4 separate regions of the Homo sapiens genome follow, and all the other regions are reported to be linked to region 1. Evidence: microRNA targets listed by miRTarBase, many of them from high-throughput screens and not tested one by one. Region 1 holds a microRNA gene; each other region holds the end of a gene's coding sequence.

Region 1 (7,000 bases):
TGTAGGTCACAGTATGAGTGGACATCTTGCCTTCGTGGACACAGGGAGGGCTTAGAAATAGTGCTGGGTGTTAGGGGTAGGCAGAACTCAAAATTGCTCTGTTGTTGGCCAAGCACTGGGAGAAGAGTCATTCCAGGGCTGCCTTCCCTTCCTCCAGGCAACATCAACATCTGTCTGATGGGGGATCCTGGTGTGGCCAAGTCTCAGCTCCTGTCATACATTGATCGACTGGCGCCTCGCAGTAAGTAGTTGGGCTTTGCGGGAGGTGAATATAGTGACAGACAGGACCACAGTGTTTATTCAAAAAGTAGGGGTGCATGTTTGCTCACGCCTGTAATCCCAATGCTCTGAGAGGCTGAGGCAGGAGAATCATTTGAGGCGAGGATTTTGAGACCGCTTCCATGTCTACTAAAAAGTTTTGTTTTTGTTTTTGTTTTTTTTGAGATAGAGGCTTGCTCTTTCGCCCAGGCCGGAGTGCAGTGGCGCTATCTCGGTTCACTGCAAGCTCCACCTCCTGGGGTCACGCCATTCTCCTGCCTCAGCCTCCCGAGTAGCTGGGACTACAGGCGCCCGCCACCACGCCTGGCTAATTCTTTGTATTTTTAATAGAGACGGGGTTTCACCGTGTTAGCCAGATGGTCTCGATATCCTGACCTCGTGATCCGCCCGCCTCGGCCTCCCAAAGTGCTGGGATTACAGGCGTGAGCCACCGCACCCGGCCTAAAAAGTTTTTTTTGTTGTTTGGGTATTGTTTTGTTTTTTGTTTTTTTTGAGACGGAGTCTCAGTCACCCAGACTGGAGTGCAATGGCATGGTCTTGGCTCACTGCAACCTCTGCCTCCCAGGTTCAAGCAATTCTCCTGCTTCGGCCTCCCGAGTAGCTGGGACTACAGGCGCGTGCCACCACACTTGGCCACTTTTTGTATTTTTAGTAGAGACAGGGTTTACTGTGTTGGGCAGGCTGGTCTCGAACTCCTGACCTCGTGATCTGCCCGCCTTGTTATCGGCCTCCGAAAGTGCTGGGATTAGAGGAGTTAGCCACTGCGCCCGGCCTCTACTAAAAAGTTTTAAAAATTGGTTGGGTGTGGTAGTGAGTGCCTATAGTCTCAGTTACTTGGGAGGCTGAGGCCGGAGGATGGCTTGAGCCCAGGAGCCAAGGTTTCAGTGAGCCACAGTTGTGTTCTGAAGAGAACCAGTGGGAGGGGAAGGGGGACATTGCCAGTGCCCCACAGATCCTCGGGCATCTCAAGAAGGCCTGGTGGAGGGAGTGGAATGATCCCAGCGCAGGCCTCGCCTCCCTGGCCCGTTTGTTGTCTTTTGCTTGTTCTCTTTCTTGTTCTTTCTCTCTCATGGTTCCTTATTTCTTCTCTTCCAGGCCAGTACACAACAGGCCGGGGCTCCTCAGGAGTGGGGCTTACGGCAGCTGTGCTGAGAGACTCCGTGAGTGGAGAACTGACCTTAGAGGGTGGGGCCCTGGTGCTGGCTGACCAGGGTGTGTGCTGCATTGATGAGTTCGACAAGATGGCTGAGGCCGACCGCACAGCCATCCACGAGGTCATGGAGCAGCAGACCATCTCCATTGCCAAGGCCGGCATTCTCACCACACTCAATGCCCGCTGCTCCATCCTGGCTGCCGCCAACCCTGCCTACGGGCGCTACAACCCTCGCCGCAGCCTGGAGCAGAACATACAGCTACCTGCTGCACTGCTCTCCCGGTTTGACCTCCTCTGGCTGATTCAGGACCGGCCCGACCGAGACAATGACCTACGGTGAATGAAGCTCAACACCCAAAGAGAGGTCCCCTGTAATGATCTGTGTAGGGAGGAGGAGAGGTGAATCAGAAAACAAATTCCACGCTCCTGGAAACCCCAGAGCCTCCCCTTTGCAGCAGGGGCTGGTCCATGGTTCTCAGGGAAATGGTGGGTTGGGGCTGAAATGCTGATGAGGATTTCCCGGGAAAGCTTGTCCCTCCTACACTGTGAGGAAGTGGCAGAGCCAAAGGAGGGACACCTAAGAGGACATGGGTGCGTAGCCCTAAAAAGGGTGTTCCTTCTAACCTTCCCTCTGTCCAGGTTGGCCCAGCACATCACCTATGTGCACCAGCACAGCCGGCAGCCCCCCTCCCAGTTTGAACCTCTGGACATGAAGCTCATGAGGTAGGAGAGCTGGGTGCGGGTGGGCAAACGTTGGCGTGGGCCGTGCGAGCCTCCTGAAAAAGTGCTTATTAGTCTTAGGGTGTGTGTTTTTCACACCACCACTTCCCGCTACAGACATGTCCAGAGCCTCAGATCAGCTTTTAAGTGGAAAATTCCACACTTCATATCATAGGGACACAGGAAATTTTGTTTCCTACACTATTTATTTTTTTTGAGACGAAGTCTTGCTCTGTCACCCAGGCTGGAGTGTAGTGATCTCAGCTCTCTGCAACCTCTGCCTCCCAGATTCAAGCGATTCTCCTGCCTCAGCCTCCTGAGTAGCTGGGATTACAGGCGCACGCCACCACGCCTGGTTAATTTTTTGTATTTTAGTAGAGAGCAGTTTCACCATGTTGGCCAGGATGCCCACCTCTGCCTCCCAAAGTGCTGGGATTACAGGCATGAACCACTGCTCCTGGCCCACAAAAATATTTTTAATAAAATTACCTTCAGGTTATGTGTATCAGTTGTATATGAAATACAGGTGAATTTCATGTTTAGACTGGAGTCCCATCCCCAAGCTATCTCATGCATATGCAAATACTCCAAAATTTAAAGTTTAAAACACCTGCTCCCAGGCATTCTGGATGATAATCTCTATCGCTATTTTCCCATGAGCCTCCAGTGTTCTTTCCGGTTTTTACTCCCTTTTAAATATTCTGTAAACAGTTCTCTTTAAATAAAATATATGTTTTGCCATGTCATGCGCTCAGAGGAGGGGTCTGGATCCTCTCTTAATGACAGACGGATTTGTCTTACAAAGGCCATTTTCCCGAAAAAAATAGGAAATAACTTGGAGGATACTGGTGGGGGCTATACGTTTGGTGAAATCCATCAGTGATATTCAAGCCAAGCAAATAATCACCCACTAATTTGTGTTTTCCACTTAAAATTCTTGGAGGGGACCATGTTAAATGGGGAGCCCTGGTACAGAAAACAACATGGGCTCATATTCACTCCCTTCCCCATCTCCCTCTTCTGCTTCCCCATGAACCTTCCCCCACAGGCGTTACATAGCCATGTGCCGCGAGAAGCAGCCCATGGTGCCAGAGTCTCTGGCTGACTACATCACAGCAGCATACGTGGAGATGAGGCGAGAGGCTTGGGCTAGTAAGGATGCCACCTATACTTCTGCCCGGACCCTGCTGGCTATCCTGCGCCTTTCCACTGCTCTGGTAAGTGCCCAAATTGCTGGAGGGCCATCTGTTTTGACCCTTAAAGGGGTAGCTCCTTACCGTGCTCTCATTGCCGCCTCCCCACCTCCCGCTCCAGCCCTGCCGGGGCTAAAGTGCTGACAGTGCAGATAGTGGTCCTCTCCGTGCTACCGCACTGTGGGTACTTGCTGCTCCAGCAGGGCACGCACAGCGTCCGTGGAGGGAAAGGCCTTTTCCCCACTTCTTAACCTTCACTGAGAGGGTGGTTGGGGTCTGTTTCACTCCATGTGTCCTAGATCCTGTGCTACAGACCTTCCTTTCTGTCCTCCCGTCTTGGACCTCAGTCCTGGGGGCTCCAAAGTGCTGTTCGTGCAGGTAGTGTGATTACCCAACCTACTGCTGAGCTAGCACTTCCCGAGCCCCCGGGACACGTTCTCTCTGCCAATTGTCTTCTTGGCTGAGCTCCCCAAGCTCCATCTGTCATGCTGGGGAGCCCAGTGGCGTTCAAAAGGGTCTGGTCTCCCTCACAGGACAGCTGAACTCCGGGACTGGCCAGTGTTGAGAGGCGGAGACTTGGGCAATTGCTGGACGCTGCCCTGGGCATTGCACTTGTCTCGGTCTGACAGTGCCGGCCCAACACTGCGGATGCTGGGGGGAGGGGGGATTCCACTCCTGTTTTGTGAGTAGGCGACCCATGGGCTGCCCAGCCTTAAAGCCAGAACAAGGGTGTCCCCTGACCTCGTTCCACTGCCCTCCTCCCGTTCCCATCTTTCCCCCCTACCTTCCCCTTAGGCACGTCTGAGAATGGTGGATGTGGTGGAGAAAGAAGATGTGAATGAAGCCATCAGGCTAATGGAGATGTCAAAGGACTCTCTTCTAGGAGACAAGGGGCAGACAGCTAGGTGAGTGGTTTAGTGAAGGACAAAGCTGTGTCACTTTGTCTTCTGTGGCCATGTGTCTGAGGTTGGCCTCAATTCTAACACTGGCCACCATTGTTCTCTGTTGATGTCGAGCATTCCTGTTTGTATCCTGACCTTACACACCCACTCATTTCCTTCAGGACTCAGAGACCAGCAGATGTGATATTTGCCACCGTCCGTGAACTGGTCTCAGGGGGCCGAAGTGTCCGGTTCTCTGAGGCAGAGCAGCGCTGTGTATCTCGTGGCTTCACACCCGCCCAGTTCCAGGCGGCTCTGGATGAATATGAGGAGCTCAATGTCTGGCAGGTCAATGCTTCCCGGACACGGATCACTTTTGTCTGATTCCAGCCTGCTTGCAACCCTGGGGTCCTCTTGTTCCCTGCTGGCCTGCCCCTTGGGAAGGGGCAGTGATGCCTTTGAGGGGAAGGAGGAGCCCCTCTTTCTCCCATGCTGCACTTACTCCTTTTGCTAATAAAAGTGTTTGTAGATTGTCATCTTCTAGCCTGGGCCTGACTTCCATTAAAACAGGGTTTTGTGCGTTTTTTAGATTCCTGTTCGTTTTTATGCTATTTCATCCACTCAGTAAATTACCTGAGTAAAGTGCATCTCCCTGCCAGGCCCCCAGTATAGACACTGGGGATGCGGCAAGGACTAAGCGGTCCCTGCTGTTTGGAGATACTTAAGATGGGGCTCCACTTTTTGAGCCCCCCGACTCCCTTATTTGGTCTTATACTGCCTGTGTGCAAGTCAGGCTCTGGGGATATGGCGCCAGTATGAAATGCAGGGTCTCTTGGTTTTTCCCCTTTTCTAGCAGACAGGTCATTACTTAGTTCCCAACTCCCACTCTAAAGCTCTGGTTAGCGGGTGATGAAAATCAGCACAAGTGATCACATACAGCAATCCCAACCTTTAGACCACTTCCTAGCTGCCTCTCCAAAATATGTAGTAAACGGTCATTGAGAAACTCTCCCTCCTGGTAATTCACAGTGCCCACAGGATCAAGGCTTGGACTTCTTTCTAATAAAAATCTGCTTACTATCCCTTCTTTTTTGCGTATGTGAAAAACAAGTTAATTTAGCTCAGGAAAGTAGTCAATTATCATGTTTATAAGGTTGGGTGGGCTAGGTAAGATGATGTAGAGGGTGACATTAAAGTGTAGAACAGAGACCACTTAGGTGGAAGCAGGCAGCCTTGGACTTTGCTAAAGACCAGTCCATGTGACTGACATGGGGTCACTTCAAATGGTAGTGCCTCCCTCACTGAAGAGCATCAGAAGGGCTTCTGAGCAAGGCCAGAATGAGCCTCGATGAACATCCAAGTTGACCAACCAGTGTGGTGCCTAACAGAGGACAGAGCCACCAGCAGGGGTGCTCAGGGGCTGCTCCCCTTTTATTAATGACAGCGGTTTCTCTCAAGGAAGTGTAGTGCCCTCCCCTTTGGGATAGTTGCCTGACCCCTGTCCATCAGCCCTTCAAGTACCCTCATCAGAAAAAGAGCCCGCGCATTCTCCTGCCGATGCCTTGTCGGTCGTAGAGGACATTGAACTTGTTCACAAACTGGTTCATGGTGTTGCACGTTTTGGTGATGGTGCCGAGGTAGGCCATGAGCCCCACGTCGTTGCATTGCTGGGAGGGAACAGAAAGGACCAGTTCCTCGGGATCCCTCGTGGCATGCCCGGGGAACAACAGTCCCCAGTCCTGCACGTGAAAGTGACAGCATAAGCCCCGCCTCCCCATCCGGGTTTTACACTCACATCATAAAAATCTGTCTTGAACTTGTCTGTGCTGAGCACCGGGAGACAGTGACACAGAGCATAGGCCTCCCGCAGGATCTCATGATTAAAGGGGACCTCTCCTAAAGGCACAAAAAGAGACTACATTAGTTTGGATGCTGTCACTTCCCCAGGAGGGAGAGGAAGAATGCCAGGGAAGCCCCTGTCCTACCCGCTTCAGAGGCCTTGACGTACTCCAAGATGAGCTTGACGCGGCTGTGCAGCATCTTGATGGCGCTGTGCTGTGCTATCAGGTGTTCAGCCACTGCAAGGGGATGAGGACAGGAGGAGGTTGAGACGGGATGTGGCCACACCTTCCAACCCCACTTCCAAGGAATCCCCTCCATTACCAGTGGAGTTCTCTCCACTGCCTGTTGCTGTCATTCGGGCTACGTGGTCTACACCAATGCGTTCCGCTTCCTCTGTGGCCAGAGTGTAGGTCAGCTCAGCAAACAGCATTGTGGCCTACAGGGCAAGGTAACCCACAAAGGGAGAATCAAAAGCAGGAAAGAGGCCAAGAGCAGGATCTGAGGGTTGAAGGGTAGGGTATTACCTCTCCATTGATTATATCAATGACAGACTCAAAAACGCTGACAGGAAGCTGTGAAGGAGACGGAGAAACCTGAACACTATATGCCAACATTTGGGCTAGCTGCTTTTACACATTTCCTCTCATCTTCCCAAGAAACCAATGAAGTAGGGATTACCTCCTTTCACAGTTTGGAGATTAAATGACTAAGCCAGAGTCACAGCTGGTAAGTGGCATCTGGCATTCCCCAATAGAGGAGTGTCACACAGTAAAAGGTATAGCGACAATCATGACAGAGTAGGCATGGAGTATTACTCACATCTGTGTGCTTGGTCATAGGGTTCAACTTCAGAAAGAGGGGGCTCTCGATGATCTCACACACCTGGAAGAGAGGGACAATGCACAGGAAGTCAGTGCCCCCTACCTTTCTCC
Region 2 (7,162 bases), not on the chromosome of region 1:
AGGATGGGGACAGGGGAGACAGAAACATTCAGGTTTTGGTGATACTTTTGAGGTAGAATCCATGAGACTTGATGATTGAGTGGATGTGATGTCTTAGTCTGTTCTGGCTTCTATAAAAAGTTACCATAAGCCAGGTAGTTTATAAACAACAGAAATTTTTTTCTCATAGTTCTAGAGGCTAGGAAACCCAGATCAAGGTGCTGGCAGATTCATTGTCTGGTGAGGGCCATTTCCACAATGGCACCTTCTTGCTGGGTCCTCACAGGCTCGAGTACAGTGGGCCAATCATAGTTCACTGTAACCTCAACTTCCTGGGCTCAAGCAATCCTCCTGCCTCAGCCTCCCAAGTAGCTAGGACTACAAGCACCAGCCACCACACCGGGCTAAATAAATTTTTTGAAAAGATGGCGTGTCGCTATGTTTCCCAGGCCGGTCTTGAACTCCTGGCTTTAAGCAATTCTCACACCTTGGCCTCCCAAAGCACTGGGATTACAGACGTAAGCCACCACACCCGGCCTGCAGTCTCTTTTATAAGGACACTAATCCCAATCATGAGGGGTCTGCCAAAGTCCCCACCTCCTAATAACATCAGTTTAAGTGTTAGAATTCCAACACATGAATTTTTAGGGTACACAAATATTCAAGCCATAGCAAGAGGAAAGAGGGAGTGTTTGTTGATAGCATGAGCAATTGTATGGATGTGGCCCCACATACTGGAGGCAAACAGATCAGGGGCTAAAAGCATGAGTTAAGGGCATGTGTTTTGATGCCTGAGAGACATCTAAAAGACGACTCCTGTAGGCACCTGAATGTAGGAATCTGGAGTACATAGAAAAGAAATTGGAGCTAGACCTAAAATGAGGTCTTTGTAGCCATGGAAGTGGCTAAGCTCACCTGGGGAGATACCATTTACCAAAGGTAAGCCGAGGGTACATTCCAGCTAAGTAGAAGCATGTTAGAATTTGGCTGCAGAGAATGCCAAAAGCCTAAGAGATTGGTACTGGTTCTAAAGAAAAGACACTCTACCCAGCACAAGTGAGATGTACAAAGTGCCCATTTCAACAAGCCAGAGACACACGTGGTAGTCAGGCCCACAGCTCTGCATTGCCTAAGTGAGATTAGAGCTGGGACGGTGGCCCGGAGCTGCTTCTCCAGTCCTAACGCCTAGAATCATGGGATGGAGATTCGTGTTAGTGCCCGACAGTCACACCCATGATACCCTCCTGCTGATGCGGAGGAAGAGACCTGAGGAGTTCCTCCGCAAACACTCTTACCCGTACTGCTAGATTTACACGGAGATCACCTAGCGATATGCAGTGGATATGGCCAGGCACATGGCCAAACCCCACCACTGGATCTCCACCGTTCACCACAGTCCACTTGCCCCAGGAATGCGCAGGCGCTACCGGAAGCGGGCACCGGAAGTGGCTCGGCTCGTGGCTTCCGGTTCCTCACCAGTGTGCCGCTGTAGCGCAAGTCATCTCGTTGACACTTCCGCTGACCCGTGCAGTTGGTGGCCAAGCTGGAGACCCAGGATCTCCCTGAGGCCGCGCGAGGTCTTCTGGGAGTCCTACTCACCACATCCGCTACTCGGAATCCAAGCTTTAAGTGGCAACCCGTGCCAGGCAGTAGCTGCTCCGTGAAGACAGAGGTCCTTGCCCCTGTACTTCTGTGTACAGCAAAGACGAAAGGAAATTGAGGTCTAGCGCTAGCTTCCCAGAATGACCCAGAATTTTCTGCTGAGTTCCAGGGAGCAAGCGATTTTACTTCCCTTATTAAGTAGCACGAAGTCCTTCACTCTCTGTCTCTAAACCAGAATCCTAACAGTCTTCAAAATTAACCTGATTGCCACCTAAAACCACGTATTTTTTTTAAAAAGTTCACTTCATTGCCATCATCATAAAATAGCATTTAATAGAAGCCAAATTGCACATTAGACGTAATCAATAACTTCAGAGCTTGCAAACTAGAGTGAAGACTGATGAGAATACGTCAAAAAGAGTAAGACCCAAAACATTGAATAAACAGTATAAGTGTATACAATAAATAGAATTCTGAGGTATCCAAAGGAACTGGAGATTACAGCACATTCTTACGTTTACACAGAAGAATATTTATATTGTATTCCCCCCCTACAGACTTAATGCAAAGAGGACTGTCAATTTTAAAAGACAAAACACCTGTACTACTTAGATGGGCCTTGGAAAGATGGGTAATGGTTATCTTTGAATCAGATCAATAGCTCTTCTAAATTACAAAACTAAACCAGATGAATACATACACTTCTAATGTAATGAACATCATTTTGTTAAACAGATGGTCAAAGCAAATACACTTTCCTACTAAAATCCCACAGGGATAACAAGTTTAATGAACATTCAAAATAGACTATTCATATAAACTATAACCTGCTATGTCTCCCTTTGTACACATAGGCAGTAAATTGCAGATTACTTTGATCAAACTCTGCAGTTTCAGATTGTATGACATCTTATGCTGCAGTCACTAGAACATTGCCACTTAATTATATGGAAACTCAGGAGGCAAAGACTCAAAATGGCATTTGCTGTGAAATGTCATTTGAGTTTTAACTCCCTGAATTATTGGGTTAGTCATTTTCTATGTTAAATGAGGAGGTGTCAATAGACTACCACCTGTAGCAACAAAGCTCTAAATAAAACTATTCTGAGTCGACCTCATTCAAAACAACTACATTCCACAATTTCTTAAATTATAAAATGTAAACTGCTGACATCTGAATTCCATTGGAAAAATGCTGTTTTCATCAATGACGACTGTTTAAAAGACTGTTTAACTATTCCAGCAATCATGTTAAGGAACTGTTGGATATACATTTTCATCACTGCATCAACGACAAAAACGGAGAAATTTGTCTGAGTCAATTTATTCAGCACAAAGTTTTCACTCTCATAGTGTGTTGATTTCCATGCTGCAAAATGCAGTTAACCAATCATTCATAGCAATAAACTCTTGCATTTAGTTTTTCATTCCCATATTAACTTTTATCCAGTATTTGTGAATAGCACCTAACATGGAAGGCTAGTATCTGAGTTAATGACAATTTTATGGAATTTATCTCCATCAGTTGACACTGTAAACAGAAGGGTGAAATGCCATCATCATAAAAAGCCTGAAGCTCACCAGCAGATATATCTTTTCCTTCAATTCCCTGGGGGTAAAGCAGCTTGAATTACATCTAGCAAATGTATTTAAGTACAACTGCACAATAAGCACAACTGAAAATATGCCTCTTTCACAGTAACTGACACTTCCGGGGTTTTCATTTTTTTCTGCATACTAATCATTAACAGTATTATACCAAAAAGCCATTTTAGTTCTACCCACACGTATGTTAATGTTTCTGAAAAGGGCTATTTTTTCTAATCTTTTAGGAAGTTTGTCGTAATCTTCCAAAATCTGGAGAAAACTGCAAAAAAAAAAATTAGAGGTTAATTGTGAAGGAAGACTCGTGTGGAAAGGCAAACTTCCATATTAAGGTGCAGAACAGGATGTATGGCACAAATTCTCACTTTCTGCTATATTTTCTAGGAGCCAAAACAAAAATGACAGCATACATCTTTTATATCACCCCCATTCTGTCCAAGTGCCTTCTAAGATATTCCCCTCTACTTCTTTCTGCAGCAACTCTGCTAATCCAGACCTTTCCCAATTTCATCCCCCATCCTGTGACTCATTAGATCTTTGACTGAACTCTTAGGGCCCCTGATATGTGCTGATGAGGCTCCTGCCAGTTTCTCCCACTGAGGGCAGAAGCAGGAGAGCAAGGAGGTGGTGTTCTTGTTATTTAACAAAGGTCATGGTATCTCAGAGTTGCCTAATAAGTAATCTAACTGGAGACTATCTTTCTACACATTTCAAAGCACCTCAGAGAAACCTGGAAGCTGGTGTCCTGTCTCCTAAGAGTGGAGACATCAGAAACAAACAGCCAAAGTCTGACCTTGACATACAGAGCAGCACATTGTCTCAACTGTGGATCTGCAAACAAGAAACAAGACAAGAATGACAAAGAGAGAGAAACTCTCTCTGGGTTAGGGATGTTTTTGTTAGTTTCAGTTTTTCTCTCACCTGAACAGTATCTTCCTGCCTCTACTCAGTAATAAGAGCTTAGCTGAGTAGCCAGCATTTTTTGTATATTTAGTCCTCAATCTGCTGTTCTGTAGGACCACCTTCTGCTACCTTCCATATAATTAGTCCTCAAGAGTCCTTTATCTTTTCTCCCAGCAAAAATTCCCAGCAACAATTCAATTTTAGCAAATATTGTACTTTTATACTGTCTATTTAAATAGAATGAGAGCATTCTTCCATCCTAATCAAAACCCATGTAAATATTGTTTTGCTGATAGGCATACAATCGACTTTAATGAGAAATTGTATATGAATCTATATTTACAACATTCTGTGGTTCTTTAACATTAATAACCATACCATTTAATAATATTTTGCTCCAGTATTTATCTATAATAGCAATATCTAAAGATCTATATATTATCAAGTATTTTGGTTAAAATCTAACAATTTTCTATATGCATTTTCTTTGGAGATGGAGAGGAAATGTTATGGGTGTTTTTTAAAAAACCAAAACCCAGTTAAGACCTTCAGTATTGTACTCTGCCAAGTGTGAAATCTCTCATCTGATTAGAGGGACAAGAATTCAAACCTGAAGTCCTGGAGAGTCTTCTGCTGCTTTGTAACTGTATATGTTAGTCAGGCTTTGGGTACAGCACAAAGGGAATGAAGGGGTTCCAGGATGCAAGCACACAGAATCGCCTCCATGAGGACCACCCTCACCTATCTCAGCTCCCCTTTCCCTGGCTGCCTGCAGTGCTACTACGTGGTGCAAATGCCAACAAATGCCGCAGTCTTGCAGACTGCATGGCCTTTGGAGTCAGAGAAACCCAAGCTTAATGTCAGTTTCACCACAATGTGATTTGTGTGCTGGGCAAAGAACTGACTTTACCCTCTGAGGACTTCAGTTTCCTCGTTTATGAAACAAAGATTTTTTTTCTCTGTCACAGATTCTGAAGATTAAATTACATAATATATCTAAAGTAGCTAGCATGCTCACTGAGAAACAATTACAATTATTCATAGTAAGACAGGTAATGTGCTTCAGTAGCAATTTGGAGGCAAATCTTAGAAAAGAGCAAGTACTTCTCCCCCTCCCCAAGTCAAGTCCAGCCTCCAGAAAAGGGCTGCAGTTAGACTTCCAAAACTCCTTGCAAACAATTGGGTCCTAAATGCCAGTATGTGCCCCTGGCATCAGAACCATGACAGAGAACTCCGGATACTAATGGCCATCAAAATATAAACTAGTCTACCCATTTGGGAACTTTTACAGGGCAGAAAAAAACTTCTGAACGCCTGTGGGAATTCACATGTAGAACAGCAATCTTATACAAGTATTACATTCAAATAGTTATAGCAAAAAAAAGTATAAAACATATAAAAGCATTTACTTTCCTAGATATGTCTGCAGAACTGGCAAAATATAAATAAATTCTCCTCCTTCTAAAAGTCAGAAACTACGTAAACAAAATTAAAATAACTTTAGCAAGAGCCTTCATTTTAATGAAAATTGAATTTAAACAAAAGTTGTGTATCTTCTTCTGGCTCACAGTTGTACAGTAACTGAGTTCAAATCCTGGGTTCATTCACTAGTTTAGTGACACGGATTTTGCATCCCTACTTATAAAATGGAAATGATACTGCCTAAATCACGGTTGTGCTGAGAATTAAGTATTACATGGGAATGTGTGTAAAGTGCTTAGCACATTGCCTGGGACATATACAGTAACTGCTTCCCACCATACAGATACTGAAAAGCCCAATCACTAATAACAATTTGTTATATTTACTTTACGTGGTGTTTTTTATGTGAGTTCGCTTATGAGTAATGAGATGCAAATTCGACTTGAAAGTTTTCCCACACACGGTACATTTAAAAGGTTCCGCTAGCATGTGGCTCTTCTGGTGGCATGCAAGTTCTGAGTCCAAAGCAAAACTTTCCTCGCATGTTTTGCACTTATGGGGCCTTTCCTCTGTATGAATGTTCTGATGGGAAATAAGCTCAGAGAAACAAGGAAAGGTCATGTCACAGTCAGGACACTGTAAGGGCTTGAATTTTGAGAATGAGAAGAAATTGTCCCCATCATCGCTGCAGCGTTCAGAGTCCTCGTCGTGGCTCTTCTCGGAAAGGGCAGGATATAAGGACTGCCTGAAGCTCTTCATGCACTTAGTGTGCTGGTACTGGGGGCCTGATACGAATGTTTCCTCAGGCAAAGCAAGATTTGGTTTCTCATTAAAATGTTTATCACAGTTAGTAGATTCGTAGGTGTTTTCAGCACTGTGGCTTTTCTGATGCTGTGCCAATCCTGGGAGCCACATAAAACCTCTACCACATATGCTACATGTATAGGGCTTCTCCTTTACGTGGCTATTCATGTGTCGGGATAGATGAGAGTGCTGGCGAAAGCTGGCACTGCACTTGGCACACTTATAAGGTTTCTCACCAGTATGGATTCTCCTGTGTGTCCTCAGGTTGGCTCTATGATTGAAGATCTTTCCACAGTCACCACATTTATGTTTTTTCTCTCCTGAATGAATTTTCTGATGCAAAACTAGGTATGAATGATCGCTGAAGTTTTGGTCACACTCAGGACATTTGTACACATTTTTGGCTCCTTCCCAGGGAGAATCAAGAATTTCAGAAAGTGTGTTGGTTCCTAAATATTCAGAGAGTTCTACTAATGGGGTGTGGTTTTCAATGGTAACTAAAAGGCTGATGACCCTTCTCTTGTAAGTGGGAGTTCCACTTAATATTTTCGCTTCAGGGTTTCCAACTCCATCCTCAGAGGATTTTTCTGGGTAAGGGACAAGGGGTGCAGCAATGGGGTACTTTTCTAAGGCAAGCTCGTCAAGTTCCATAGACTCTAGGCTTAACTGCTGATTAATCTCAGGCTTGCCTTCCTCTCCTGTTGATAAAAACAAAAGAAAGCAAAACATAGACAATATCTTCAAGGGATACTGGGGAAAAAGTAAGCTAAGGTAGTTACAAACAGGACCAGGAAACCTTAGAAGGGTTATTCTATAACCCAGACACTAACCACACAAAATCAGGACC
Region 3 (7,162 bases), not on the chromosome of region 1:
CCTGGATTCTTGTAGTCGACTGTAGAGTGCCCAGAACCTATTTAACCAGTGATCACCTGTCACTGTTTAAATGACATTCTTTCAAGGTCAGTGATTATTGTGTTCACAAGGAAAACAGCTGCTATCTTGGATAAGGTTATCTGGACAATATGGCTATTATGGTACAAAATGCCTAAATTACTTTTTGATGACAGCATAGAGAGAATTTGGGTTGGATAACATGAATAAAGATATGGGTTCAATCTTCTGTGGGGCTTGTATTCAGCCCCTTAGGCCAGCTGTCTCATCATCAGATGAAAGAAGTCATTTCCCCAAAGGGTTACCAGTTTTAGGAGGGGCTTTAGGGGCATTAAGAAGGCCTGCTATCCAAAATAAAACTTCCCATTAATTGGCCAATGTCTTAACCTGGGTTTCCTTTTACTTAACACGTTAATTCCCGATGAGCTCACACCCTGAAGCAGATAATATTGCAATTCTTTGTTTACAGACTGTTTCAGATCCTTTCTCCAGAACTGCAGATAGGGAGGAGGAGAAAATATGAAGATATTGGTTTTCTGAGGAGAGTTAAGATAAGTACTGTTTAGGGGGAGTTGGGGTAGATAAAAGTGAAGCAGGGAAGACTCAAGTTCACCAATTTCATACTAACTTCTGGATTAAAATGTTTTACCATTCATTTCCAAAATGACAGAATAGTGCATATGAATTAATATACACCCACCATTACTACAGGATAATTCATAAGACATGGCTGCTAATGGTGTATGCTACGTAGGAGCAGCACAAAGACAGAGGACAAATATAGCAAAAAGGTCTTGGATCAAGATGCAAACAACAAAACACTAATACTCAACATTTTGGAAATGTTGAGCCATATAAACACTGGTAGCTCAGAAATGTGAAGAATGATCCCATAATCCTACAATGTGAATTAGGTTGAATACCAGCTGTTGCCAGGTGTGATCAATAGGAAGATGGGATAGTTAGTTGTCCTACTTCTAATCTATATCACTGGGCCAGAAATACTCTCAGGACAATAACACATGTTATTTTCACAACACTTTAAATTTGAGAAAGCCCTTTGACACCCATTGTTACATTCATTTTTCACACCAAATTCATGCAGTAGATCCTGAATTTCACTTAAGAGCATACTCATAGAGTTTGACTTGACATGACACTAAATGGTAGAGTTAGTGTTTTAGCACCAAGACTGGTCTTTATACCGCCACAGAACTCATAGTCACCTCATGGGATCACATCACATCAGACGAGTCTTCTTCAGGGATTCAATTACCCATTATTATCAGTATTAATTCATATATGTAAAAGACCATCGTGCAAGTGATCCCTCTTGTCATAGGGTATTATTTCTGGCTTTTGTCACTTAAGGAATAAATTTCATTTTCTCTTTGGGATAATTTTACTTTGTAATACCAGCTCCAGTGACCAACAAAACCCAAGAAACTCGTCATTTCCTATTGGAAAGAAAGGAAAACTGAGTATCAGTGATTCACACCAGCCTCAAAACTTTAGGAGTAGCTTCTGGTTTCCCCAGCGGCCTCCCTTTTTTGTGAAGAAGGGCAGCCAATCTGGAGGCATGGTCTTTCTTTTATCTATGATCCCTCTCTCCGTTGACAAGCTACTGGGTACAGTAAAGTCCTAAGGAATGTGAAGTAGAAAGGTGGACTTCAGCGGGGGCCAGATCATTAGATTTAACTTTACGGCTGATAGAGGCTGATTTCAATATATTAGAAGTGATCAGGCCGGGCATGGTGGCTCAAGCCTGTAATCCCAGCACTTTGGGAGGCCGAGGTGGGCAGATCACGAGGTCAGGAGTTCGGGACCAGCCTGGCTAACATGGCAAAACCCCATCTCTACTAGAAATACAAAAATTAGCCAGGTGTGGTGGCGGGTGCCTGTAATCCCAGCTACTCAGGAGGCTGAGGCGGGAGAATCACTTGAACCCAGAAGGTGAAGGCTGCAGTGAGCCAAGATCATGCCACTGCACTCCAGCCTGGGTGACAAGAGCAAGTCTCAAAAAACAAAAACGAACAAACAAAAAAAAGAAGTGATCAGTGGGGCCAGCACCAGAAGAGCTGGAAGAATGAACTTTCACTCATTAAACCACTTACTGGGCACCCACTAAATGCCAGGAACTGGAGATACAAATCAAAGAGGAGATTTCGAACCTCAAGAATCTTTTCCATAACCAAATCAATACAAAGCAAGTGGAAAGTTGTATGAGAGGACAGGGAAGGAGCAACTGTTTGGGCCTAGCTGGTAAGGAAAGATATGACAGCAGTGACATTTTAATCAGGCCTTGAGAATTGAGTAAAGCTAAGGTCATGGAAACGCATGTTAGTCAATGAAGAATTTTGGGCATGCTGCTAGTGTCCAATCTCCTACATGGATACAGGTAACAGAAGAACTGAGGTTGGGGCCTTTTGGCTCAGGTCAAGATTAGAGAAATATGCTGGATATTTAATAACAGATTCAAGACTTCCCGTTTACCCAACAATAGTCTGGATTTGCAGCTTAATTAGTGAATTCAACAAATACTTACTGGGTATGTTAAGTGGTAGACTTGGCCAGTGTTTTTTTTCGGCCTTAATAAAATTTACAGTTAAAACAATGTAGGTGTTGTGGTCTTATTTAGGTGAGAAAAACTTAAGATCCTTTCCATCCTGAGAAAAAATATATAAGCATTTCTCCTCTAATTTCTAAATTCCCTCACCGCTTTTTAAACTTTGCAATTAATGGTAGCAATCATAGCAGCTTTCAGAAAACTACCCCAACTGCCTGTGGCAATACAGATTTGGTGGCAGGCTTCCAGACAACACAAATAGCAGTGACAGTTCTAAATCCCTAGGCCTACATTAAAAACAATTCTCTTCCCCCTGCCACAAAGAAACCAAAAACATACGCTACATTAAGTTGAATACATATACAGACTTGCAAAAGAAATTACATCTCAAAACAAACCTCCCAGAGTTAAAGCTGGTATTATTTTTTTTCCTCCAGACATCTTTTGAAAATGCGAACCAATCACACAGCTTTTCTCCCAGTCAAGAGTTACTAAAACTATTCAACACAGCTGAAGGTTGAATAGTTCTAGTAACTCTTGACTGGGAGAAAAATAAGAGGTTGGGGTGTTTCGACTGCAAATTCTTCTACCACCATTTGTTTGCAGTGTAAGTCAGGACAAGTTATGTGGAAATACGGCTAAGAATTTAAAAGCAATGTTAACATTCTAAGCACTTAATGAGCAGATGGCACATATCTTGTTCTCCTGGGTCTCCCACATTCAACACAGGACTTTTAGTATTCAAGGGGTACTCAGAAAATGTCTATTGAATAACATAATATACAAACTGGGAGTCTGATTTTTAAAAAATAGCATATTGCCCAAGGTAAGTGACTTTATTTTACAGTTTTCAAAATTAAGAACATTTTTGCTTACTTGAAGTCTATTTGTATTCATTAGTACATTTCAACAATTTGGAAATGAAAGATGTGAAGATCATTTGATAAATAGAACACTGCATATAAGGCTAATTTTTTAAAAATGAGGTTATTTTGCAATGCTAAATTAGCTTTTAGAACTTCATAACACAGATATACTTGACCACCAATTAATAGAAAAGTACCCTTTTATTGAGAGGTAAGACAAGTATATTTACAATATTCAATTGTTAGATAATATAATCTGACAGTGGGACTTTTTAAAGCAGCAGTATTTCAGGAATTACAATTTATAAGGGGAAAAGAAAAACATTCCAAATATGTTTCTGTTACAGAAAATACACTTGAACAATGACAGAAACACTTAAGGCTATGTAGTATTAGACCTTTTCCTCCATCTCTATAAAGTACATTTTTGTTACAGACAGAAGGCTGATTTTGGAAAGAAAGAAACAATAGGATGTATAGTGCTTTCTATCAGCAGACTAGTATGTTTAAAAATAGTCTCATCAAGGGTTCTGAATAAGAAATATAAATGTTGCCAGGCAGTCCCAAACTCACATTTGATATTAACTGCAGACTCATTTAAAACTGAAAACTGCTCCAGCCTCTCTCAATCTTTACTAAGGACTGGGAGATTATCAAACCCTTTCAAGTCTAATAATGCTTTTGAATTAAGATTATTGAAAAAAGGAATCTCTGTTACAGTGCAAAGAACATTTTGATAGAAATTCATGTCTACAAAGGAGTTAAATACAGATGTCCCTTACATTAGCAGATACTATTCTTGCTCTAAAAAGGTAGAATTATCAAGACATTGTAAATAATATGGGTCAAAAATATGTGTAACAGAGTTCTACAGGGCACCTTATATAAAGTCAATCCTCAAAGTATGTATTTGACACTCTCCAAGTGAGGATATTACTTTTTTGAAGAACATTAGACACAACAGTAGCCTCTTATTATTCCATTAACTATTGAGGTAGGAGTCTCCATTTGTCAATATCATCCCATTTTCACAGATACATCGTAAGTCAAATGCAAGTACCAAAAATGTCTTAATCCTTAAGACTAAACCATCACACTATACACCAAGTCTTTCCTTATTTAGATGAGCAAGATTGGGAGTTCTCTGTGTATTAAGAGATTTAACTAAAAATAAAATAAGCTGTAATCTATTTTTGTAGACATGTTTGTAAATAAATACCACAGATTTCAATTATACTTTTATGCATTAAAAAGCTTTGCAACTGTTAAAAAAACAAAACAGTGCAATCAGTGGTAAAACAAATAGTACTATGGCTGTTGAAATGTTTCCCTACATCTACCACTAAAGCTGTCACATCTTGTAAAACTAAAGAAAACAGCTATTTCCTACTGTCTAATAATCAGCAACGGTGGAAAAAAAACACTTTTTTTTTAGTGTCATGTTCTTAAGAAACCACAGTCAGTTTATTACAGTGAAATGACTTTAGCACGTGAACTCAGGTATTTTCTAATTAACTCAAGATGAGTGATCATATGAAGGATATGTCATGCTTAATGACTATTATATGCTAGGAAAAAGCTGAAAATAAGGGAAAACTCAGATTAAATGAATAGCCCTTTAAAAATAGCCATAAGTTTAACCTTTTAACATGTTACATGTCTTAAAGTAAACATTATCAAAAGTTATTTTAATTTATGAAAAACAAATAATAAGCCACTGCTAAAATTTAAAAAAAAGAAAGAAGAAAGAAAAATTACATCATGACATGGAAAAAATCCATTTGGTTTGCATCATTTAGTATCTTCAATAATACTATTCAATGAGACAAGCTATGAAACAAACTACTTCATTCATGGTCAAGAATGCTTTTTTGTTAAATACTTACACGTAATGAATGATATAGACAGATACTTAGGAGGGCAGACTCCCAAGAAGTATGAGACTTTCCGGAGTATGCTGCTGACAAAACTTAGCTATAATTTAGTAACTAAAAGTTAGTAAAGAATGACCTTTGCATATTCCAACAAAGAATATCTAGTTCAGATTTTCACCTGGCTTTGAAATATTAAGATTCAGAAGAACCACAAAAGTTTTATTTTAACCATGTTTACAAAAAAAAGTAATCCATACATCAAAATTGGGGTTTCCTTGGTTTTAATACTTTAAAATGACACAATCCAATCGAATTCATGCATCACTTCCAGAGATACAGTGCAACTGGAAATATTTTTGCCATTGCAGTGGACATTTCTAAAAAGCAAATGCCTATGGATGCTCCTGAGCCTTCAAAATAAAAAGAAAAGAAACAGGCACCACAGTTCTCTAAGGATGGCTGAGTTTCGCACATTGTGGAAAAACAACACAAATAGCCTTCAAGAGTTTCTTAAGCATCATTAACATGGATTTCACCTCTCTCAGTTTGCTTGCTGACTTCTTCTTAGTTCACTTGAGTAGAAGCCTGTTTTCACTGCTTCTTTGCTAATTTGCTGCTGGTACTTTGTAGGCTATACGTTTTAAACTCCTGTAAAGAACATTACAAGCTATTTCATGTAATTTAATTTTGTGCTGAATATTCTTCAAATGACTTTATAAATAACACAATATTTTAAATGAGTCTTCAAATTCACTTGTTGTTATACCATATTGTTGCTTTCTCCAACTTTATCTACAAACTGTAAGGAGAAGAAAAACAGAGAATTAAAGAAAGCCCGGAACATTATAAAACATTATATCAATATTTAAAATGTTGATTTTAAAAACCCAGCCTTACAAGAAGAGTTGTGGAAATTTAAGGTATGACTGACAATGACTAATCCAGTACTACTCACCATCATCTTCTGATACATAAACGTGTATAAAATTTTTTTTTCTAAAAGTTGTTTTTTGCATGACATGTTATACATATGAATTTAAGGGTGCAACATGAAAAATGCAACACAATGAATAAAGAAATTGTATAAGATGAAGATAACACTGCTAGCTTAACAAAAAATAAAAAATAAAAACATAAAAAAAACTGAAATGTCAGCCATTCATGCATTAATGAACCCAATAAGATATTTCAACTGACCATTACTGTGGATCTCTTCTGGGCCTATGTAGTCTTTGGACAAACAGATTTAACTCCATTAAGTTCAATAGTTAACAACAGTTATTGACTAAAAATACTTTAAATGTGTATTCTGGACTTTGGATTGAAAGTGGTAATGACATTAAAGATAGATTTAATGATGTAAGCATAAATTTATAATTATTGAATATAAATTTTAACACACATTACTGTAAGTGGTTATTTACTTTGGTTACTCCACCCCAAACATAAAGCAGTTGGGCTTTTTTTTTTTTTTTAACATTCCAGATGGTGATGTAAAGACTGATATTGTATATAATTGGTAGAGACATTAAAAGTTATATAACCCAGGTGGTTATACTATCAAATTCTAGTAATCATCTGATCATTTATTTTGTTTCACGATTCACATGTTTACATAAGCACTTATCATGATGAATAACGATAAGAAACATATTCTATTGTATTGGGTGTCCATTTATGCAAATTCTTGAGAATCCTTAAATTAAGGGCACAAATAATGATTACAACTCTGTAACTAGAAGTTTCAGTACATTCAAAAGCCATTCTAGGTATAAATAACACTGACCACTGTATGAATTTGCAGATTAATGCAAATGAAATCAGAGTATACCCCTATA
Region 4 (7,162 bases), not on the chromosome of region 1:
CACTATGCCTGGCTAATTTTTTGTATTTTTGGTAGAGATAGGGTTTCGCCATGTTGGCCAGGCTGGTCTTGAACTCCTGAGCTCAAGTGATCCACCTGCCTCTGCCTCCCAAAGTGCTGGGATTATAGGTGTAAGCCACTGTGCCTGGTCTGGGACATGCTCTTATTGCAGGACAATTGACACATGTTGAGAAGTGCTGAAAAACCAAATAAAGCAGGGAAGGGCCTAGATAAGGAGAGGAGGGACTGTGATTAATGATGTGGTTTGGGAAGGCATCTCACCTCTTCAGACAGAGTAAGCCACACAGGCACATGGGGAGTGTCCAGAGAGAACAGCAGTGCGAGGCAGAGTGACCAGAAGGGACAGTGATAAATGAGGTCAGAGAGGGTGGCAGGACCTGTATCGTCAAGGATCTTACAGGCCATGGGAGGGATTGAGCTTCTCTGAGTTTTGCAAGAAGCCATTGCCAAGGCTGTGTGTTCACAATCAGACTGGTTAATTGGGTTGTTATGTGGACCTTGGGTTGTTAGGAAGTCAGTGGCAAGAGCCTGTCAGGAGGCTCCCACAGTCCAAGCAAGAGGTCTAGGTGATTCAGACCACAGTGATGATAGGAGTGATGGCGTAGTTTGGGATACATTTTTAAGTGGAGCTTACTAGTAAATATTAGGATTTAGACTGGTATATGCTCACTTTAGATCATGAAACCTGAAGTGAGAAGAATTCTACTTAACAAGACTGCTGGAAACTTTTAAAGCATTTTAAGCGTGTGCTCAATAAGCAGGGTAGTTATGTAGTGGCCTTTTGGATCAATGGTTTGGGAACGTGGTGGAGAAAAGGAGGGTGATAATACGGTCTGATGCCTATGTGATCCCCCAGTAGCCTACATATGTGCCTAACGAAGACCTGCCTGTCACCAGGTACTGCCTAGGTTCTAAGCCCCAGACTGTGGCTGACATCTTCAGCAGCCAAGCTCAGTGTTTTAGACTAGGAACAGAATGCTCCTGTGATGCAGCTTCTTTTGGAGGTAGGGCTTTAAAAGAGAAGAAAGCAAAGACTTGGGAAGCAACAGAATGGGGAGGAGGAGGTTAAGAACAAGGAAGAAGCGCTCTGGGCATGGGGTGGCCCTGGGCTGCAGCACCCTGCCTGCCCCTCTCCTGTGGCCGCTGGGGAAAGCTGCTTTCCTCTAATGGGAGAAGCCTGATGTTCAGCTGCAGTTTTTCTTTTTATGTTTAAGTGATTCTGTAAGCTTAAAATTCTTTTCTTTTTTCCTTTCAGGCACATAGCAGTATTTCCCTGCAAGATAAAAATCCTCCCTCAGTACATTTTTAATTCTCGAGATCCGATAGTGATGGGGGTGACGGTGGAAGCAGGTCAGGTGAAACAGGGGACACCCATGTGTGTCCCAAGCAAAAATGTAAGTTCTAGTTGTACATTCTGTGGGTCATTTCTTAAAGCACTAAATGAGTGTCCAAGAGTCGTACCAACACAGCTTTGTGCCTGTAGTTCACAGTACTGTGCTGTGTATTTAGTGTGGTCTCCACCTTCTTAACAAATGTTTCAGTGTTTTTACCTCAGTAGGAAGAAAATGTGGTAACTTTAAAACAAGCAGAGCCTGTCACCTTCTGTTGTGCTTCAGTATTGGTAAATATCAGTGCTCCATAGTCAGTGTTGACTCAGTGCTGATCTCAGTGCTTCAGTTAATTGGGGCTCCAAGGCACTTTACATTATTGCCTTTTATTTTATTTTGAAAGGTTTCAAGCCTGTGGAAAAGTTTAAAAACTAGTATAATGAACACTCATGTTTACCTTCCCTTTCTGTCAGCATACCTAAGAAAAATTAATAATATTTCAACAATATCCTATAATTTGCAGCCCTCAACATTATTTCACCAGTTATTCCAAAGATGTTTTGGTAACTCTCCCCACCAATCTGGCCCAGTGCCCTGCAAGCTGCATTGCACTGGGGCTTGTTTTGTGGCTGAGCCTCAGTCAAGAACAGTCCTCCATTCTTTTTGAAGTGTCCCTGTTGTTTTGCAAATCCCTCCTCCATTTGGATTTATCTGTTTCTCTCCCTCCCAACTAGACACAGGTTAGAATTATTGGAAAGACACTCATGCAGTTTCCCTGTGTGCCTGCCTCTTGCATGACCCAGCCTGTCTGACTGCTGCTGATGCTCTGATTTCCTGGGGAAAGTGCTAGACGCCAACCATCTCCATTAGAAACTTGCCCCTTTATAATTACTCTGTAATCTGTCTGGTACCTGGAGTTCCTAATGGATATCCTGTTTCTCAACAGCCTTTATCCCAGTGCCTTTAGTACCCACTGGCAAGCGTTGCCTAAGTCAACTATTACGTAGATGGTTGCAAAATTGTGGATATACCTGTCCCCCCATTTCTTACAAAGAACCTCTTCCCACTGACCTTTTTATTGAGTCATAGACTCAGTGGGTTTTTTTTTTTTTAATATAATCCATTACCTTTATTCTTTTGATACTCAGATTTTCTATTGTGGTCAGTAGGAGCTCAACTGGCTCCTGTATCCTTGACACACAGCAGTCTGAGCATCATCTTCCTTTCTGGTTGAGATGTTCCAGCCTCATCTAGTACTTTCCCTGGCCCAAACCTGGTTCTTGTAATGGGCAATGGCACTTAGAAGTTGTCATTGCTTTTCTACCATTTCAGTGGACTAAGCCTGGACATTTATTTGTGTTACTTTCTATGTGGCTTTGGCCTCCTAAACCAACCAGAGCTCTCCCTGTTTTCACTCTTACTCTCCTGAATCTTTTTCTCCACAAAGGAGTCAGGGTTTTTTGCCCCAAACTCTGAGATCACATCACTCATCTGCTCACAGGCCATCATTCTTAAAATTTCAGGATTGGTCCTCACTCTGACTTCATTCCCATCAGCCACTTCAAGCTCATTCCTGACTCAGACCCTTTGTGCCTGCTGATCCCTCCTATTACGGCACCTGTCACGTGAAATGGTAGAGCAAAAATAGGAAATGACATTGGGTCAACAGGGCACTTGGAATGTTTTGCAAAGCACATTATCTCCTGTCATTCTTACAACCATCATGAAGGGAATAGGGTGTTGGTGGTGCCAGCCTAGTTTACCAAAATGTTACACCGTGAGTGATGAAAGGATCGCACTGCCATGACTTTTAAAACAGGCTTTTGCTCTAGTTCTTACTTCAGCTATCCAGCCATGGCGCCTGTGATTGGCATGAATTCTTCTGCATGCATTTTAATTTGTTCTTATTTTATAGTTTGTTGACATCGGAATAGTAACAAGTATTGAAATAAACCATAAACAAGTGGATGTTGCAAAAAAAGGACAAGAAGTTTGTGTAAAAATAGAACCTATCCCTGGTGAGTCACCCAAAATGTTTGGAAGACATTTTGAAGCTACAGATATTCTTGTTAGTAAGGTAAGTATTTCAGCAAAAGTGGCACACTTTAAGCAACAGGGAATCACTCTTCTTGGGTCACCTGTACCTGTAGCTCCTTGGGCTTCAGTTTGATTGTAGAATCTGATGGGACTGGATCCCCCATTAGGGCTTGACCTCTAGCTGGGCCTTGTCTGTTGAGGAAGTTGCTCTATCAGGAAAGCAGCACCAACAGAGAAAGCTAGGACTTTTAGGTCCCCTCGTGCCTGACATGCAAACCAGATGTGATTTTGGAATTCTACTCCCTTAGGCAGGCAAGCCCTGTTTTTTATTTCTGCTTAAGCTTTTTAGTACAGTGAGAGCGGGCATCTGGGGCCACAGCTTTCTTTGGCACGTTTGTTATGTTCTGTTTACCCTGTTTGTGCCTCGGGCATTGCAGATCAGCCGGCAGTCCATTGATGCACTCAAAGACTGGTTCAGAGATGAAATGCAGAAGAGTGACTGGCAGCTTATTGTGGAGCTGAAGAAAGTATTTGAAATCATCTAATTTTTTCACATGGAGCAGGAACTGGAGTAAATGCAATACTGTGTTGTAATATCCCAACAAAAATCAGACAAAAAATGGAACAGACGTATTTGGACACTGATGGACTTAAGTATGGAAGGAAGAAAAATAGGTGTATAAAATGTTTTCCATGAGAAACCAAGAAACTTACACTGGTTTGACAGTGGTCAGTTACATGTCCCCACAGTTCCAATGTGCCTGTTCACTCACCTCTCCCTTCCCCAACCCTTCTCTACTTGGCTGCTGTTTTAAAGTTTGCCCTTCCCCAAATTTGGATTTTTATTACAGATCTAAAGCTCTTTCGATTTTATACTGATTAAATCAGTACTGCAGTATTTGATTAACCAAGCTTCTGCAGATTTTGTGATTCTTGGGACTTTTTTGACGTAAGAAATACTTCTTTATTTATGCATATTCTTCCCACAGTGATTTTTCCAGCATTCTTCTGCCATATGCCTTTAGGGCTTTTATAAAATAGAAAATTAGGCATTCTGATATTTCTTTAGCTGCTTTGTGTGAAACCATGGTGTAAAAGCACAGCTGGCTGCTTTTTACTGCTTGTGTAGTCACGAGTCCATTGTAATCATCACAATTCTAAACCAAACTACCAATAAAGAAAACAGACATCCACCAGTAAGCAAGCTCTGTTAGGCTTCCATGTTAGTGTAGCTTCTCTCCCACAAGTTGTCCTCCTAGGACAAGAATTATCTTACAAACTAAACTATCATCACACTACCTTGTATGCCAGCACCTGGTAACAGTAGAGATTTTTATACATTAATCTTGATCTGTTTTAATCTTGATCTGTTTTAGTAGAGATTTTTATACATTAATCTTGATCTGTTTTAATCTTGATCTGTTTTGTCCTAGAAAATTCCATCATACACACATTTCCTGATATTTGGGCTTAGTGCTTCTAAATTGTTGCAGACACAAAACTTAATGATTCATTCGTAGTAGTAATCTGTAGCTAGTTTTAGGGTTTTGCTGAAGTCAGTGTGGGGTGTTTGTTTGAGGAAAAAGTTCCAAATATCCACTAGCATAGAATTTTAAACTATTTTTATTTTAAAGTTATGGCATAACATATAACATAAAAATATTTTATATACGTTTGAAAAATCTATACCGTTCTTTTTTATCATCAAAGTTTCTCAATGGCCAGTAGAAGCAAAAAGACAACACCACCTCTGATCTACGGGACATAATGTTCCCAGGAAAAAAATCTTCAAGTGGGTGTGAGGGTGTTTCTAATTCAAAATATGTAGATTTCTCCGCATGGAAGAAGTAGTAAAGATTTTCTTAACATGCTCCTGTGTTCATGCTTGGAGACAAGAATAAGATGGTTTAGAAGCTTTACCCTTTCTTGGAACAAGTAGAATCCCGGTCTGAGACCTCTCAGGAATTTCAGAGCTTAGCAGTCTGGCCTGGAGGTTTTTCAGCCTTTTAGTATAATAAACAGTAGTTGCTTCCTAGAGTTGAGTTTTTAAGGATTCACAAAAAGGAGCCTGTACAAAATATACATACAGTTCTTTATTAAACAACTGTAAACACTTCACTGTAAAAATCCATAAAACTTTATAAACAAACATTTTGTAAATAGAATCTATGCTACAGTAAAATAATTAACACAATTATTTACATGCAATACTGACAAATTTGGCACTTTTTGAAAAGAAATGTACAAAACACTTGCTTTAAAAGAAATTTAAAATTATAAAAACTCCGAGCATTACTATCATGCACTTTGCAAATACCTCACAAGCACTTATGGCACAGCTATCAGAGAGCATCAGGCTCTCTGGTAATATTTATGTAACTTTTAATGTGCTTCCATAAGTTTGTTGTAAAACCACCTGGACATTGTCAAGAATAAAGTCAAATGCCATATTCCAAACCGATTCCACCGATTGCTGCATCAGCCTAAAGGTGGGGAGAGAAGAAATGTCATTAGGAATTAGGAAAGGTCCTTAAGACTAATTATTCCTTTTTATATATAAAAATTGACTTTGGCAAAAAAAAAAAAAAGTCCTGGCCAGGTGCGGTGTGGCTCATGCCTGTAATCCCAGCACTTTGGGAGGCCGAGGAGGGCGGATCACCTGAGGTCAGGAGTTTGAGACCAGCCTGGCCAACATGGTAAAACCCCGTCTCTACAAAAAATAGAAAAATTAGGTGGGCATGGTGGCACATGCCTATAATCCCAGCTACCCGGGAGGCTGAGGCAGGAGAGTCACTGGAACCCAGGAGGCAGAGGCTGCAGTAAGCCAAGATCCTGCCACTGCACTCCAGCCTGGGCGACAGAGTGAGACTCCATCTCAAAAAAAATAAAATCCTAGAACACTCAAATTTTTTTTTATTTTGTTTTGAGACAAGCTGTCGATCAGGCTGGAGCCATGCAGTGGTGCAATCATGGTTCACCGCAGCCTCCACCTCCCAAGTAACTGGGACCACAGGTGGGCACCACCACCCCCCCAGATTATTTATTTTTTGTATTTTTCAGTAGAGATGGGGTTATGCCATTTTGGCCAGGCTGGTCTCAAACGATCCACCCACCCCAGCCTCCCGAAGTGAAGTACAGGCGTGAGCCACTGTGCCCAGCCCACTTCCTATGGTTTTTTAATCACATGTAAGACCTTGAGGGCAACATATTTGGAACCTTATTTGCTACTTAGTCAACATGGCAAAATAAAGGATATCACTTTCTCATTAACCCTAATGAGTACAGTTTCCCAGAAAGTTTAAAACAACTCAGTACACCCTCAGCCATTGTGACATGCCATTTTTTCCCATTTGATAAAAGTGATGAATTACTACCTTTTCATGTATTTTATAACTAGATCCAGTTTTTCCAAATCTTTTTCTTCTATTAGATCAGTACAGTATTTCACAACTTGGAGAATGTCTTCTTCCATTGGATCTAGGAAGGGGGAAAAACTTCAAATGAGGACCAGTCTTTTTGAAGGAGAAAGTCAGAGATCTGCATGGATAAAGGAAAACTGCATTTCTACAACTATGTCACTAACAGCTATCAAAGGAATGGGCTTTGTTACTTTTCAAAGCAAGTCCCAGAATTTAAAAGATTTGGGGGTAGCTGCTTTAAGCTTATCAGAGTTAGAGAAATGGGTTAAATCTGCATAGTTTAGTCTGTTTATGTTCTCAAATCATGAGACGACTACATCTCAGCCTTGGGCCATCTAACACAGGCCAAGCCAACCTG

The links. The annotated mature microRNA hsa-miR-106b-5p reads UAAAGUGCUGACAGUGCAGAU and lies in region 1 at 3,479-3,499, shown strand. An mRNA with a match to its seed (bases 2 to 7 or 8) in the 3' UTR can be bound and repressed. Matches are read on the target gene's strand: a 7mer-m8 pairs with bases 2 to 8, a 7mer-A1 pairs with bases 2 to 7 and ends in A, and an 8mer does both.
Region 2: the mRNA of ZNF597 is a reported target of hsa-miR-106b-5p. Seed matches in the 3' UTR shown: 8mer at 5,799-5,806.
Region 3: miRTarBase lists GOLT1B as a target of hsa-miR-106b-5p. The part of its 3' UTR that is shown has no 7-base or 8-base seed match.
Region 4: the mRNA of REV1 is a reported target of hsa-miR-106b-5p. The part of its 3' UTR that is shown has no 7-base or 8-base seed match.

What each region holds. Positions count from the first base shown.
Region 1 is chr7:100,090,542-100,097,541 of GRCh38, reverse strand. It overlaps MIR106B (microRNA 106b), which reads left to right and starts at 3,468; the gene lies at 3,468-3,549. It overlaps COPS6 (COP9 signalosome subunit 6), which reads right to left. Exons shown (of 10, transcript NM_006833.5): 5 at 6,888-6,950; 6 at 6,593-6,640; 7 at 6,390-6,504; 8 at 6,212-6,304; 9 at 6,022-6,122; 10 at 5,355-5,893. The coding sequence ends at 5,753. It overlaps MCM7 (minichromosome maintenance complex component 7), which reads left to right. Exons shown (of 15, transcript NM_005916.5): 10 at 158-241; 11 at 1,375-1,768; 12 at 2,072-2,155; 13 at 3,201-3,369; 14 at 4,141-4,250; 15 at 4,409-4,814. The coding sequence ends at 4,610. MIR25 (microRNA 25) reads left to right here and starts at 3,899; the gene lies at 3,899-3,982. It also overlaps MIR93. RefSeq lists enhancers at 1,541-2,041, 5,822-6,116, 6,976-7,000.
Region 2 is chr16:3,430,526-3,437,687 of GRCh38, forward strand. ZNF597 (zinc finger protein 597) reads right to left here. Exons shown (of 4, transcript NM_152457.3): 4 at 1,889-7,013. The coding sequence ends at 5,899. Among named protein-coding and RNA genes, the nearest start is that of ZNF597, 9.4 kb to the right of the region's middle. RefSeq lists enhancers at 926-1,427, 1,194-1,363 and a silencer at 1,624-1,673.
Region 3 is chr12:21,514,630-21,521,791 of GRCh38, reverse strand. It overlaps GOLT1B (golgi transport 1B), which reads right to left. Exons shown (of 5, transcript NM_016072.5): 5 at 3,384-6,123. The coding sequence ends at 6,085. Among named protein-coding and RNA genes, the nearest start is that of SPX, 8.1 kb to the left of the region's middle.
Region 4 is chr2:99,395,485-99,402,646 of GRCh38, forward strand. It overlaps REV1 (REV1 DNA directed polymerase), which reads right to left. Exons shown (of 23, transcript NM_016316.4): 21 at 7,160-7,162; 22 at 6,760-6,862; 23 at 4,993-5,868. The coding sequence ends at 5,757. It overlaps EIF5B (eukaryotic translation initiation factor 5B), which reads left to right. Exons shown (of 24, transcript NM_015904.4): 22 at 1,276-1,414; 23 at 3,264-3,425; 24 at 3,823-5,842. The coding sequence ends at 3,930. Among named protein-coding and RNA genes, the nearest start is that of EIF5B, 62 kb to the left of the region's middle.